2 separate regions of the Homo sapiens genome follow, and region 1 is linked to region 2. A link means that fine-mapping ties the variant in region 2 to the expression of a gene that starts in the linked region. Tissue or cell type: CD4 T cells. Region 2 holds a variant in brackets; the other region holds the start of a gene. All regions are shown on one strand. Distances are from middle to middle.

Evidence for each region. PIP is the estimated chance that this variant, and not a neighbour inherited with it, causes the effect.
Region 1: RBM39 starts here. The variant in region 2 is fine-mapped to the expression of RBM39 in CD4 T cells (Kasela 2017, PIP 0.95).

Annotation. Positions count from the first base shown.
Region 1 is chr20:35,738,445-35,746,528 of GRCh38, reverse strand. RBM39 (RNA binding motif protein 39) reads left to right here and starts at 4,269. Exons shown (of 17, transcript NM_184234.3): 1 at 4,269-4,588; 2 at 5,642-5,705; 3 at 7,512-7,561. The coding sequence starts at 5,655. RefSeq lists enhancers at 3,830-3,929, 4,100-4,319, 3,681-4,366, 4,380-4,529 and a silencer at 4,790-4,889.
Region 2 is chr20:36,545,152-36,553,255 of GRCh38, reverse strand. MYL9 (myosin light chain 9) reads right to left here. Exons shown (of 4, transcript NM_006097.5): 3 at 5,063-5,224; 4 at 1,809-4,179. The coding sequence ends at 4,007. All of the region lies in intron 2 of DLGAP4-AS1 (DLGAP4 antisense RNA 1), which reads left to right. Among named protein-coding and RNA genes, the nearest start is that of MYL9, 7.7 kb to the right of the region's middle. RefSeq lists an enhancer at 4,772-5,700. The variant G/C (reference allele first, on the strand shown) is at 4,757.

The sequences.
Region 1 (8,084 bases), 810 kb after region 2:
TCTGCCTAAATCAGGCAAAGGTCACATGAGTGTTAAAATTAATTACATCTATATGAAATGGGCTTAAGTTTCCCATTGTCCTAGTGATATGGGGAAAAAAAAAGGGTCAGGCATGCTGGCTCACGCCTGTAATCCCAGCACTTAAGGAGGCATAGAGGAGAGGATCCCTTGAGCCAGGAGTTGGGGACCAGCCTGGACAACATGGCAAAAACCCAACTCTACAAAAAATACTAAAATTACCTGGGCCTGGTGGCATGTGCTTGTAGTCCCAGCTACTTGGGAGGCTGAGATGGGAGGATCTCTTGAGCTCAGGAGGTCAAGGCTGCAGTAAGCTGTGATTTTGCCGCTGTACTCTAGCATGGGTGACAAAGTGACACTGTTTCAAGAAAGAAAAAGGCCGGGCGAGGTGGCTCACGCCTATAATCCCAGCACTTTGGGAGGCCGAGGCAGGCAATTCCCTTGAGGTCAGGAGTTCGAGACCAGCCTGGGTAACATGATGAAACCCCATCTCTACCAAAAATACAAAAAATTAGCCGGGTGTGGTGGCATGCTCCTGTAATCCCAGCTACTTGGGAGGCTGACGCAGGAGAATTGCTTGAACCTGGGAGGCGGAGGTTGCAGTGAGCTGAGATTGTGCCATTGCACTCCAACTTGGGCGACAGAGCGAGACTCCATCTCGAAAAAAAAAAAAATATATATATATACATATATATACACACATGCACACACACACACACACACATATATATATATAGAGAGAGAGAGAGAGCGTGAGCCAAGAACGCGCCATTGCACTCCAGCCTGGGCAACAAGAGTGAAACTCTGTCTCAAAAAAAAAAAAAAAGAAAAGAAATGTTAAATGCTTGAGGTGATGGATTACCCCAATTACTCTGATTTGATTATTACACATAATATGCCTTTATCAAAACATCACATTTGAAGCCCAAATCTCTACAAAAAAAAATTTTTTTTTTGAGAAAGAGTTTCGCTCTTGTTGCCCAGGCTGGAGTGCAATGGCGTGATCTCGGCTCACTGCAACCTCCGCCTCTCAGGTTCAAGTGATTCTCCTGCCCCAGCCTCCCAAATAGATGGGATTACAGGCATGCGCCACCACGCCTGGCTAATTTTGTATTTTTAGTAGAGACGGGGTTTCTTTATGTTGGTCAGCCTGGTTGCAAACCCTCAATCTCAGGTGATCCACCTATCTCGGCCTCCCAAAGTGCTGGGATTATAGGAGTAAGTCATCACACCCAGCCCAAAAAATTTTTAAAAAATTAAGCTGGGCATGGTGATGTGCACTTGTTTTTCTAGCTAATTGGGAGGCTGAGCTGGGAGGATTGCTTGAGCCCAGGAATGCAAGGTTACAGTAATCTATGATGTTGCCACTGCACTTCAGCCTGTGGGACAGTGTGAGACCCTGTCTCAATTAAAAAACGAAACAATTCTACTTGCTGTAGATTGTTGGGGACAAAAAACAAAACAAAACCAAACCACATGTATCTGATAAACATATACATTTAAAATGTACCCTTAATAATTAAAAAATTAAAAATCCACATTGGTAAAATACATTTAGTTTTCAGCCAAATTCTCTAAGTATATTCATTACCTTTTTGGCTCTATTTCAAGCTCTATTCCTCCATCTTTTGAAAGCAAAATGATGAAAGGGGAATTAATTTACATAGAAAGTTCATGAACCAGAGTTAGTGAAGTTTTGTAAAGTGAATGAGAAGCATCTTATGTTCGTGATATTTTCTTTTGTGTTAAGAGACAGGGTCTTGCTCTGCAGCCCAGGCTGGGGTGAAGTGGCACGTGATTCTAGCTGACTGCAGTCTTGAAGTCCTGGGCCCAAGCTATCCTCCCATCTCAGCCTCCTGAGTAGTTGGAACTACAGACATGCATCACCACGTCTGGCTAATTTTAAATTTTTTGTAGAGACAGGGTCTTGCTATATTGTCCAGGCTGGTCTCAAACTCCTGGACTCAAGCAATCCTCCTGCCTTGGCCTCTCAAAGTGCTGGGATAACAGGCCATGAGCCGCCATGCCTGGGGATATTTTCTTTTAAACATAAAAAATACTTGTTTCAGAAACTTGATTTTTCCAAACGGCTTTTCTTGATGATCTGCTAAGTTGCCATATTGCCTCTGATGGTCCTTGAGCAGAAAACTATTTAAGGGACCTTAAATCATCAAGCGACTTAGAGCTTAAATCCTTCCTCTTCCCAAACAAGAAGTCTAGCGGTTAAGGTCAAATTCTGTCATGTCATGTTCCTAAACAAACAAGAAAAACCAAGTGCCATCTTCATGCTTTCATTTTGCACTAGTCATAATACTGGAATTACCGAGGGGCAGGAAGAGATAGCAAAGGTTAGCTTGCTTTATTTCTGACATATTATGCTTCAATTTCCTGTGACAGTTTTCTTTTCTTTCTTTTTCTTTCTTTTTTTTTTGAGATGGAGTCTCGATCTCTGTCACCCAGGCTGGAGTGCAATGGCATGATCTCAGCTCACTGCAACCTCTGCCTCCCAGGTTCAAGTGATTCTCCTGCCTCAGCCTCCCGAGTAGCTGGGAATTGCAGGCGCCTGCCACCTAGTTTTTTTTTTATTTTTAGTAGAGACAGGGTTTCGCCATGTTGGTCAGGTCTTGAACTCCTGACCTCAGGCGGTCCACCCGCGTCGGCCTCCCAAAGTGCTGGGATTAGATGCATGAGCCACTGCGCCCAGCCTCCAGAGCGAGACTGTCTCAGAAATAAAATAAAAAGAGGATCTGAATTTTCAGAAAAAGGATTAAGGGAGTATTCTAACTACAAAATAACTGTTATTAATAATCCTCTAAGATAAATCCTAACCTGTGTGTAAAGTTAACCTGAGAGGCAAAACCACTTAACATCTATATTTGCTCTAAATAATTTTGTTTAGCAGAAACAGAAGTTAGCTGTTTTGAAGATCAAATATTTACCAGGCGTTTTACAGACATTATATCATTTAATCTTCACTATAGCCCTTCTGAGCCTTCATTCATTAATTTACTGAGGGTCCACTTGGGCAGACATGCCCTGCTAACCTCTAAAAATTCAGTACTGAGCATTACCTGCCTTCCTCAGTCTCAAGTAGCTTAGACTAGCTACTAAGTACGTCCTCTTTTAAATCAGGAAATGAAAGATCCCCTCTGAGAGGTTAATTTGCTTGTCCAAGGTCACACAGTGTTGCAGCAGCTAGTTACACTAATCAAGGCGTCTCATTTCCAATCTTTTCTGCCCTCAATCATTAGACTGTTAAGATTAGAGGGTAAGATTTTTGCTTTGAAGACTTCTTTCCAGTTTTTTTTCCCAGCATCTAGGAGGAAACCTCACACAGTACTGACCAAAGAACAAATGGCTAATTCATACTCTAATTACCTGGCATCTAGAAGACTTCAGGGGAGAGGAGCCAGGTCCCAGGGGGAAGGGGGCCTTTTTTTTTTTGTTGGGGGGGTGTCTTATTTTTTCACCAAATCGTCCAGTAATATTCAGGAAGGGGAACATTTTTGAAGGAACGGTAGCAACCCTGACACAAGAGCTGATTAAATTCGGGGCACAAAACTGATCCCATGCCAAGGGAAGCAAGAGTTTATTTTTTCCACCTTTTTTTTGCTTTTCTCCACTATTTCCAAGGTTGTTTCAAAGCTCGACAGTGGAGGCCGCGCCATTGGCTCCAAATGACAGGGAAATCTATTTTTATTATCTCCCCCTCTCCCCCTACCCCTAAAGATCTCTTCTTCTGGCCTTCTGATACACTTTTCCACTTCCTCTCCACCCTCAGCGGATAATCTGAATATGGCCGTTTTATCCTATCGCCATAAGGACTAGGTTGCCTTATGGCGACCTTGACAGCCATCTGTGTGGGAGGCCGGAGCGGGGGCGATCGGCTGTGCCGGAGGAATCTTCAGATGGCCGTGAGGAGGCGCCACGAGGGGGAGGTGACCGCTGAGCTCCACTCAGCGAAGAGCTCTCTGAAAGATTGACAGGCAGCCTACCAACTGTCTTTGCCCTAGAGACCCGCTCTGTCTCGCGAGATTTGGGTGCTTACGCGGAGGGGGAGTGAAAGGCGCCTCACTGAATGGGGGATGGGAATATCTGTGGCGCAATCATTGCGCGAGATTGGGCTACGGTCGCCGGAGCCATACTTAGGTCTCGCGATACTTCGGCCGCTCAAATTTGGAGCTTGGGGCAGCTTCTCGCGAGAGCCCGTGCTGAGGGCTCTGTGAGGCCCCGTGTGTTTGTGTGTGTGTATGTGTGCTGGTGAATGTGAGTACAGGGAAGCAGCGGCCGCCATTTCAGGGAGCTTGTCGACGCTGTCGCAGGGGTGGATCCTGAGCTGCCGAAGCCGCCGTCCTGCTCTCCCGCGTGGGCTTCTCTAATTCCATTGTTTTTTTTAGATTCTCTCGGGCCTAGCCGTCCTTGGAACCCGATATTCGGGCTGGGCGGTTCCGCGGCCTGGGCCTAGGGGCTTAACAGTAGCAACAGAAGCGGCGGCGGCGGCAGCAGCAGCAGCAGCAGCAGCAATCTCTTCCCGAACACGAGCACCACAGGCGCCCGAAGGCCGGAACAGGTACGGGGCGTTGCGGACCCGCGTATTATCTCAGCTTTCTCGAGGTTTGGCTCCATTTTGGGCTGAGGGGCGCTTTTGGAGGTCTTTAGCGACCGGGGTGGGGGGTGGTTTTCGAGAAATCGGCCCTGTTTCAGTGACCGCGCCCTTATTTTCCAGTCGGGTATAGTCTGGATTCTTGGGGCGGTAGGGACCCCCGAGAGGCCGCGGTAGAATGGTGACCTGTCTCCTTCGAGGCCTGGGCCGGCCGCGACCTCCCAACATGGCGCCAGTTGAACGCTGCCTTGGCTCATAACCCCTCCCAATGGAGGGAGTTTCTCTTTGCCCCTAAAATGGCAGCGCGGGTTTTTGCCCGGAAAGAGGCGCTCTCGTTCGGGTCTCCCAGTTTCTGTTTTTGGAGTTGACAGCAGAGTTTTAAATATTGGATATTGAAGTCTTCATTTTCGTGTGTTTCGTGTAAGAGGCGTTTTGGATTTACTTACGTAAGCCAAACCTGGTTAAAGTGCATGTCACTTTAGTCATTAATTGTAGGGCTTTTGGAGGTTTTTCTTAAGTTTTCGAGTGTGTCGGCTGAGAAGAAAAATTCAGTCGATTTGAAAAACGTTTACCAGGCCGGGCGCGGTGGCTCACGCCTGTAATCCCAGCAGTTTGGGAGGCAGAGGCAGGCGGATCACTTGAGGTTAGGAGTTCGAGACCAACCTCATCAACATGGTGAAACCCCGTCTCTACCAAAAATACAAAAATTAGCCGGGCGTGGTGGCAGGCGCCTGTGATCCCAGCTATTCGGGAGGTGAGGTGGTAGGATCGCTGGAACCTGGGAGGCGGAGCTTGCAGTGAGCCGAGATCGCGCTACTGCACTTCAGCCTGGGCAACTAGAGCGAAACTCCGTCTCAAAAAAAAAAAAAAAAAAAAAGAAAAATGTTTACTCACGGAATCGTCTTGTTCTTTTCCTAGGCGTTTAGAGAAAATGTTAGACGATATAGGCAACAAGAGTGAAACTTGTTTCACATTGTAAGAGAAATGTTTACTCAAGAAATTGTCTTGTTCTCTTCCTAGGCGTTTAGAGAAAATGGCAGACGATATTGATATTGAAGCAATGCTTGAGGCTCCTTACAAGAAGGTGAGAAAAAACATGTCGGTGAGGTTTATATATTTCTTAATTTAGCATTATTCACGAAACTACTGCTGAAATGTAAACTAACCTCCCCGGAGCCCTCTTGATTTATCTTATCAGAGATGCATTACGTGTAACTTACAAAAGTAAATATATGCTATTGATGTAATAATATTGTGCAGTAGTTTCACTTCAGCGTGATGAATAAATGCCCATCTATCTCTCTTTGTAGACTTGCCTAACGATATCTCACCTCTACTCCCATGAATTCACCTTTGATTCCAGTGTGAACTGTCAATCATAAGGTAGTAATTGAGTGACTTATCGCTGTACCGTGGTCCCCTAGGTAAAATGACTCAACTAAGAATTACCACCTCCAGTTTGGTATAGCAAAAAGGTGAATGTAGTGGTTTGGGAAAAAGCAGGGGTCCAAGAATAACAAAGCATGACCAGTCTGTGGCAAGTTAAATCTTCTAACAGTCTTATAAGAAGAAATGGGTGAGATTTTAAAATTTATGTATCTATGTAAGACTGGTGATAGTAAATCTTAAAACAGTCCAGTGGCAATCTGCTGCTCAGTTAATAATTACTAAAATTCTTGGATCCCTGAATAGAAATTAAAAAAAAAAAATACAAGAGGCAGTAGAGTCAATACAAGCTTAATACAAGCTTAGAGTAAATACAAGCTTAGAGTCACTTGATGACTGTTTTACTGTTCTCCATATTGTTTTTATTTTTAATTAGGCCCTACCATAGTATTTCACACTAAAAACAAAGGAATTATATTGGCTAATATAGTCTTTGACTCATTTCGGTATCTCAGTAAAAGTAAACTGTCTTTTCATTGTTTCACCAGTTGGTGGTGAAAATAGCAGTATGCATGCATTATCACTGGTGTCACAAACTGTAAGCTTTGTAAGTTAGCACTTTACTCCTATAGCTGATGTAATCAAACTTTAAAATAAACATTTCACTAAACCTTTTAAAAATAATACATTTGTTTTGGATTGTATAGCACGACCATGTGGTACCAATTTGGATGAATTCTTGATAGATTTAAATAGTGTATGTAATTTTGTAATGCTTAGACTCTTGAAGAGCTACTTTCTGTTTTAATGTTAAGATTCTTGTGTCTTAGTTTTTTTTAACATGGATGTAATTCCATGTAAACAGGTATGGAAGTAGGAAATGTTTAGGCTGGACTTGGTGGATTATTAATTGACTTTCTTGGGTTCTTGGGAGTCAACATTACTAAAGCAGTGTGAATCCCTGTTTGCTTCAGGGCGAGATGTGTGACAGAGGTGGCATCAAGCTCTTACAGTCCCAACCCTCCAACGGAAATGGGCGAAGATCTCAGGAATGGCATCGGTCACAGGAAATCGATAGTGGCTGGCTGCTAGCATGGCCACTTGGGGCTTAGGCAGAAATAGAGCCATGGTACTGACCAAAGGGACCATAGCACATGGAATAAAACTCAAAACAGGACTTCATGTTTTATGGAAATTATATTTAACCACTTCAACATTGTAAATCTGGATAACTTTTAATATCTAAACTATATAAGAAAGTAAAATTTAACATGTTAATATGGAAAATTTTTTTATTTTTGTATCTTGATGACTTAAATGTAAGCAACAAAGTGGTTAAACACATACCCATCTAAATTTTTTTATAGCCTTCCATGTTAAACTATAAGTAAATAATTAGTTTTAAAATTGTTTTGTATTTTCTTATTCCTGTTCCCTTTACCCTTTGACAACTTGAAATGTTACCACTTCGTCCTCATGATGTTCTTCTATCAACCCTGCTTAGGATGAGAACAAGTTGAGCAGTGCCAACGGCCATGAAGAACGTAGCAAAAAGTGAGTTTTAAGAAGGGGCTTGGGGGAGGGTGGTGAGCTTTTTTGTGGTTTTAGACCTTAAGTTGTGTTCCTGTGGCTAAAGTATACAAAATTCTCTTCTGAAGCTTTTCTTTGCTGCTTTTAGAAAATTGGTTCTTTGCCTTTTGAGACAAACTCTTGGAGGAACTGTGGATTTTTTTGCTTAGATTTCAGAATATAGTTTCAGATACCTTCCCCTCCAAGTCCATCATGACAATCTGGTGACAAGTTCTGTATTAGAGGTTGTCTTGTTTTAAATTTGTTAACTTTGGTTTGATATTTGGTTATCTTACTGATAAAACTGTTATATATCCATTGATCTTAAAAGGTAGAAAGAGTTAAATTAGGTGATAACTAGGCCATGGAAAGTATTGTTTGCCCTAAAGTGCCGAAGGAGTCAAAGCTGTGAATTATTTCTGCAACTTGCTGCTCAGAGGCCCTTTTGGAAGTGATGGAACAGGTACTTAAGTACTTCTAAAGGTGGCTTTCATTATCTTAGGCCTTT
Region 2 (8,104 bases):
GAAGCTTCCAAGTTTCTGTATCTATATGAGTTTGAAATGTTTTTCTACCACCATAGTATATCAAATTAAATTATAATGTCTCTTAAATTTTAAGATCTAGGCCGGTTGCTGTGGCTCACGCCTGTAATCCCAAGCACTTTGGGAGGCAGAGGTGGGTAGATCACCTGAGGTCAGGAGTTCAAGGCCAGCCTGACCAACATGGTGAAACCCCAGCTCTACTAAAAATACAAAATTAGCTGAACATGGTGGTGCGTGCCTGTAATCCCAGCTACTTGGGGAGCTGAGGCAGGAGAATCACTTGAACTTGGGAGGCGGAGGTTGCAGTGAACTGAGATCACACCACTGTACTCCATTCTGGGTGACAGAGTGAAACTGAGTCTCAAAAAAAAAAGTTTAAGATTCATTTTGATTCTATTATAAGGTCTAATGAGGCTGCCAGAAAGATAAGGAAACACAAAAATTTTCAGAAAATAAATGGAATTTCTAATGTTTTAAAAGTGCTAGCCTTTGGAGGAATTTAAAAAAAGGACTCTGTCAGGTGTGGTGGTATGTGTTTGTAGTCTTAGCTACTTGGGAGGCTGAGGCAGAAGGATCACTTGAGGCCAAGAGTTTGAGGCCAGCCCAGGCAACAAAGCGAGACCCCATCTCTACCAAAAATTTAAAAATTGGCTAGGTGCAGTGGCACATGCCTGTAATCCTAGCACTTTGGGAGGCCAAGGCAGGTGGATCACCTGATGTCAGGAGTTCGAGACCAGCCTGGCCAACATAGTGAAACCCCCTCTCTACTAAAAATACAAAAAGTTATCCAGGCGTGGTGGCGGCTGCCTGTGATCCCAGCTACTCGGGAGGCTGAGGCAGGAGAATCGCTTGAACCTGGGAGGTTGCCGTGAGCTGAGATCGTGCCATTGCACTCCAGCATGGGCAACAAGAGTGAAACTCTGTCTCAAAAGAGAAAAACCACAAAAATTAAAAAATTAAGGCCAGGTGTGGTGGTTCACACTTGTAATCTCACCACTTTGAGAGGCCAAGGTGGGAGGATTGCTTGAGCCCAGGAGTTTGACACCAGCCTGGGCAACATAGCAAGATCCTCTCTCTACAAAAAATAAAAAATTAGTCAGGCGTGGTGGCACAGGTCTGTAGTAGCAGCTGCTCAGGAGGCTGAGGTGGGAGAATTGCTTGAGCCCAGGAGTTCTAGGCTGCAGGGACCTATGATCACACCACTGCACTCCAGCCTGAGCAACAGAAAGACCCAGTCTGAAAAAGCTAGACAAATACTAGGAAAAAATAGAAAATTTTACAGTTTTACAATGATGTTGAGCACTTAAAAATGTATTTGGTGAGTATTTAAAATGTTCTTATTAAGTGTATGTATTTTGGCCGGGCGTGGTGGCCCACCCCTGTAATCCCAGCACTTTGGGAGGCTAAGGTGGGTGGATCACAAGGTCAAGAGATGGAGACCATCTGGCGAACATGGTGAAACCCTGTCTCTACTAAATATACAAAAATTAGCTGGGCGTGGTGGCGCACACCTGTAGTCCCAGCTACTTGGGAGGTTGAGGCAGGAGAATCACTTGAACCCGGGAGGCGGAGGTTGCAGTGAGCCGAGATCACGCCACTGCACTCCAGCCTGGGAGAAAGAGCGAGACTCTGTCTCAAAAAAAAAAGAAAAAAATAAGTATATGCATTTCTTCTGAGATTCCTTTTCATGTTACCATTTTTTTCCTACGGCGTTGTCTTTTTCTGATTCAATTACTGAAGCTTTATATAGATTAGTGTTAACTCTTGTTTTGTTAAATATGCTGCAGGTATTTCCTCCCAGAATGCATTTGGCTTTTAATTTTGCTTATGGTTTCTTTAGCTCTACAAAAAGAATGTTGACTTCATGCATTTAAATCTGCCAGTATTTTCCTTTGTGGCTTCTGGGTTTTGTGCTAGACTTGGAAAGTTCCGGGGGTCCTTTACTGCTGGTCTGTGGGTGCTGCAGGTCCTGCCTTGCCCTGCCCAGAGCACGTTCCTCTTCCCTTCCTGTGGGTCAAGGTAGCCCCCAGGCCAGTTCTGAAGCCAGTGAGGCTGGACTGGTCCTGACCTCTTCCCGCCTGTGTGCGAAGCTCTTCCGTCTTCCGTCTCGGGGTGAAGGTGGGGTGAACTGTGACAGAATCGCACGCTGGGGCTTGACATCTAGATGACGCGTCCTTGCCTCCTTCCAGAAATGCCTTTGGTGCTGCAGTGGCTCTGCTGAGAGGACCTTATGACCCTGGTGTCGGGCATGTGTGGCCAGTACCCTGGGACACTCTGAGACCCCCCTCCCACACCCTTGGGGCTGGCAGCATCGAATGGGTGGCCAGACTGAGAGTTGCCCAGGGCCGTGTGTGTAGCTGGAGGCCTGCAGCCTGCTGCCGGGGGTGAGAATGTGTTTGGGACTGAGTTTGGGATACTATTTGGGCCTGGTTTGGAACTTGTTCGGGTCTCGCCCCTTCTGGAGTTGATACCAGGGACTTTTGGGCCTCTGTTTGGAGCCAGGATGAGGAGTTTCAGCCGAGCTCTGAGCAGGGCCTGGCGTTGAGGCCTGCAGGAGGTTAGGGCCTCCTGGTCAGGCACAGGGTCCCCTGGTGCTCAGCTCCCCCTTGGCCCTGATCTGGGACCTTTGCTGAGTGCTGCGGCTGCCTGCGCTGGGTGACCTCTGGAGAAGGCCTCAGGACCAAGCTGGGTCCACTCGCTGGGGTCAGGTGGGGTGGGTCCGGCCCTCACTCTTCCCTAGGCCTATTGGGTGACCCAGGCAGTCCATGCCCCTCTGGACTCTCTGCTCAGTCATTCAGCGCTCTTTCTGCCCCTCTTAGGCCCCAGGCACTGCCATCAGTGTCCCCATCATCCACCAGTAGCAGGGGTCCCGGCCCTGCCTGCCCTGCGTACACAGGGACATGGAAAGCTGTGGCCCCCATGCTGTTGGTCCTGGGGCTGAACTCGCCCTCCACCTGCCTGGGGCTGGGAAACCCCTCATTCCCACCTCCAACCCTGAGCTGCTGGGACGCCTGCCTCATCACTGTTGGAGCCTCCCTGTTCTTCTGGAACCCGGAGCTTTAGTCCTGAGGGCTGTGTGGCCTGACCTCTGCCCCCCAAGAGGCCTGGAACCCTCCACGGGATTGGCTGTGGTGATTCCCATGGTCCTCCCTTTCCCACAAGCCCTGAGAAGGCCATGAGGCCCATTCCCTCCGTCCCCTGTCCCCTGCTGGTCTCAGCTGAGCACAGAGCCCACTTACTAGGGACTCTGGTCCCTAGAGGCTTCAGGGACCATATGGCCGGAGGACACCCAGTCCTTCCCTGGGCCAGGGTGGGAGGAGCAGGGCAGTAACTGGAGATGGCAGGAGAAGGTGGGAGAGGGTTTCAGGCCCGGGGTCCCCTTACTTCACCCCAGCCACAGACACACAGACCAGAAGCAGTGCTCAGTCCTCTATTGGAGATTCTGCCCCCTCTGGGACAGATGTCCACGCTGCCCGCGACTCCTGAGCACACTCCCATGGCGGGTGGCGTGCTCTGGGTGGGTGTGCGGCAGTGGCCGGTCAGGGTGTAGGGAAGGGGACTGAGAGGGGACCTTGGTGAGCTTGCATTTGTGTGGGGATACACGTGAAGGGGTGTCTGATCCCAGGACTCAGGGCCTCTTCCTCCTGGGGGGCACACAGAGCCCCTTCCCTTCCTCCTCGGGGAACAGCCCCGGAATGGGGCCTTCCCTTGGTGCCTCTAGGTCCTGCCCTCCAGCCCATGTCCCCAGAAGGTGGTCTTTCCTTGGAGGGGTCAGAGACTATAGCCCAGGGCTCTGGGGTCACTGTGGGAACATCTGCCTCAGCTCGGCACGCACTTCTCCTGGCCTGTTTCTTCCACTGGGAACTGGGACCCTAACCCCTCAAAGGGGGATCCCTGAGCGAGGGTCATGGGCAGGGAGCTGGTATGGACGGGTGTGTGCGGGGAGGGGTGACTGGCGGGGGCTGGGGTGTCAGGGGGCTGGGGTGGCCTAGTCGTCTTTATCCTTGGCGCCATGTTTGAGGATGCGGGTGAACTCCACGTAGTTGAAGTTGCCTTTCTTATCAATGGGTGCCTCCCGGTACATCTCGTCCACTTCCTCATCTGTGAAGCGGTCACCCATGGTGGTGAGCAGCTCCCGGAGGTGGTCCTCATGGATGAAACCTGCGGGCAGGGGCAGGGTGGGTGAGAGCAGGAACTTGGGCTGAGACATACACAGCAGCCCCATCCCTCAGCCCCCTGGCAGCTCTTGCAGACCTAGAGGGGCTGGGAAGATACAATCTTAGTCTCTGGTCAGTCTGAGGAATGAGGACGTGGCAGGAGGGGTGTGGGGGTGCACGTGAAGGGGTGTCGGATCCCACGTGAAGGGGTGCCAGGGTCCTGAGGGGAGGAGTTGTGCAGTGGGACTGTCTCCGAGGTGTCACTTGGGGAACTTGAGGCTGTGCACACAGATGGTGTTGGGTGTGCCCTGTTTTAAGCGTGAGCTCTGGAGTTCCACTGCCTGAGTTGCAGTGCTGATTCCCATTCTCCCTAGCTATGTGACTTTGGGCAAGGTCCTTAACCTCCGTGTGCCTGTTTAATCTAGAAAACAGGGATGAACGTATGCCATTGCAGTGAGGGACCGTGAAGGTAGTCAGGCCCGTGCGGGCCCATGGCCATGTTACCATGGCCATCATCACCCTGACATGTCCCTGGGAAAAATGAGCTGAGGGATGGAATATCCGTTAGGAGATCCGAGGAG[G/C]GGGGCCAGTTTCTATACCTTCTTGGCAAGAAAGGCATGAAATGGTTTGATTTCTGGAAAGGTCTAAAACAGATGGAGAATGTGCATTGGGCCAGCGGGGGAGATCACGAAGGCAGGAGTCTTGGGGCATGGGCTGTTCTGGCCTAGCCTTTGCGGCGACAATAAGGAGGTGGCCTGGCTTTTATAGTTCTGGTGACAGAACCTGGGAGATGGGTGATGTCTGTTCTGGCCCTTAGGGGCAGAGGCACTGAATGCCTGGGCCCTGTTCCACTTGCATGCAGAGTGGTGGTAGGGGGCGCCACGGACCTGAGGCTTCCTCGTCGAAGCAGGCAAAGGCGTTGCGAATCACATCCTCGGGGTCCGTGCCGTTCAGCTTCTCCCCAAACATGGTGAGGAACATGGTGAAGTTGATGGGCCCCGGGGCCTCGCTCATCATGCCCTCCAGGTATTCGTCTGTGGGGTTCTTCCCTGTGGCAGGTGGGGTGTTCCAGCCTGTGGTCCTGGGCCCTCTGTCCCCAGCTGGGACAACTTGCACCCCCGTCCCCCACCCCTGCCCTTCACCGCTCCGTGTGAGACGGGAGGTAGTGGGTTTTGTGAACTGGAAAGCATGGCTCTAGCGCAGCCACAGCAGTGGGCGCCCGGAGTCCCTGGCTGCTCCCACCAGTTTCCTCCTGTGGCCTGGATGTCAGCAGCCGGCAGTGCTCACTAAAGTGTAATAAGAACAACCCTCTGCAGACTGCTCGCTGTGGCTGGTCGACCACGTGCCTTATTGCATTTAACTTTCACCACCCTGTGAAGTCAGCATTCTTACCCACTTCACAGGTATGGAAGCTGAGGCACAGAGAGGCCAGGTGACTTGTCCAGGGTCAGACAGCAAGTAAGGAGGAGACTTGAGTAGACCTGGCATTTGAACCCAGGCAGCCTAACTCCAAAGTCCAGACACAGTGCTTTGCTGTCAGACAGGCCTGGGTTTGGATCCCAGCTGTGCACCTTGGTTTTCCCCATCTCTTAGGGGAATTGTGAAGACAGTAGTTGCAAAAGGCTCATAACAATGACTGGCACAGGCCTATGGACTGGAATCAACTGCTGGGTTTCTATTGCAGCCCCACTACTTGGTAGCTGTGTGACCTTGGGTAAATTACTTAACCTCTCTGAGCCTCAGTTTCCTTGTTTGTAAAGTGGGAATAATTGTATCTGTTCAATAGGATTGCTTTGAGATTTAAGATAATACCTGCAGGGCTTCTTCTTATTATTATATTTGCTGCTCTTGTTTTTAACTTGAAGATAAGGGTGTGACTCACCTGCAGACCCACGGATATGAGCTACAAACACAGTGCATGTTTTTCTGGGTGGACACCCAGGGCTGTCATGAAGTCTCAGGGGTTCAGGGGCCTGGGTGCAGGGTGTGGCCTTGGAAATAGGAAGTTTTCATGTCCCTGAGCCTCACATACCCTGCTGTGTCCCCCTGGGATGGCCATGGAAGCTGAGGCCCAAGAGGAGCTGTGACGCCAGGACACTGGGGTACTTAAGGCCAGCCCCTTCTCTCACCAGGCCTCAGTCCTTCCACGAAGCTGGGAAAGCCCCAGATAAGAACCCTGGAGTTGGCCAGGCGTGGTAGCTCACACCTGTAATCCCAGTACTTTGGGAGGCCAAGATGGGCTCTGGAGTTTGAGACCAGCCTGGCCAACATGGCGAAACCCTGTCTCTACTAAAAATACAAAAATTAGCCGGGCATGGTGGCGCACGTCTGTAATCCCAGCTACTGGGGAGGCTGAGGCAGGAGAATCTCTTGAACCTGGGAGACGGAGGTTGCAGTGAGCCGAGATGGTGCCACTCCAGCCTGGGCAACAGAGTGAGATTTTGTCTCGGGGGGAAAAAAAAAGAACCCTGGAGTTTACTTCCTGCCAGGTGACCTCCTGGGGGAGGGAGCCTTCAAGCGAGCCTGGCCAGAAGCGGGGAGAGGTTTGGTGCTCAGGGCCGGGGGCAGCGTGCTGTCAGTTCTCCCACTCAGGTTTGCCTGGTTCTCCTGCTCAGTGCCTCGTGGGGAAATGTCAGGGTCATGGCCCCATTTCACAGGAAGAGGAAAGTGCACAGGGCCCTACCAGGGACTGACTCTCTGGCCTCAAAGCTCGAGGCTTGACTGTCACGGGGCTGTGTCCTCTGGTCCTGGACTCTCCCTCCCCCAGGCAGTGTCTGGTCTGGATGCTGTCACTCGGCATGAGGGGTACGCGGGAACTGGGCTGAGAGTGGCTGGCTGTGGCCAGCACTTTGGGAGGGATGTTGGGGCAGGCCCGTGGGTTGGGGCATGGTCTGTGGAGGCCTTGCCTCTGGGCCTGTGTTTCCCCATCTGCAGTAGAGAATTGGACTTGATTTTTGTACCCTGTTAGTTCTAAGGTCCTGATCCTGAGGAAGTCACTGGGACCAGAGAGGCTATGAGAGCCTGAGATGGGTGACCTCTGAAGGAGGGGAGCTGGTCTGGCCGCCCCTCTAGGCCTCAGTTTCCCCATCTGTGCAGTGGGCAGCCTGCAGTTCACACTTTCATTTAGATGCTGACCTCTTTCTTTCCTTTCTTTCTGTTTTGAGACGGAGTCTTGCTCTGTCGCCCAGGCTGGAGTGCAGTGGCGTGATCTTGGCTCACTGCAAACTCCGCCTCCCAGGTTCACACCATTCTCCTGCCTCAGCCTCCCGAGTAGCTGGCGCCCGCCACCACGCCCAGCTAATTTTTGTATTTTTAGTAGAGACGGGGTTTCACCATGTTAGCCAGGATGATCTCGATCTTCTGACCTCGTGATCCGCCCGCCTTGGCCTCCCAAAATGCTGGGATTACAGGCGTGAGCCACAGCGCCTGGCCAGCTGACCCCTTTCTTTAAATGAAATGATACCTGGCAGCCCAGTGCACAAATCTGCCTAAGACAGGCCCACTGTGGAGTCAGCCTGTCTACGTTCAGACCCTGTGGTGGACCTGCTTTGTGCTTCAGTTTCCCTGTTTTTTTTTTTTTTTTTGAGATGGAGTCTCGCTCTGTTGCCCAGGCTGGAGTGCAGTGGGGCGATCTCGGCTCACTGCAACCTCCGCTTTCCGGGTTCACGCCATTCTCCTGCCTCAGCCTCCCAAGTAGCTGGGACTACAGGCGCCCGCCACCACGCTCGGCTAATTTTTGGTATTTTTAGTAGAGTCAGGGTTTCACCGTGTTAGCCAGGATGGTCTCGATCTCCTGACCTATTGATCCGCCCGCCTTGGCCTCCCAAAGTGCTGGGATTACAGGCGTGAGCCACCGCGCCCGGCCCAGTTTCCCTGTTGAATGGACTAAGTTAATGGCAACTATTCTCTAAGGTGGACACCACGCGTCT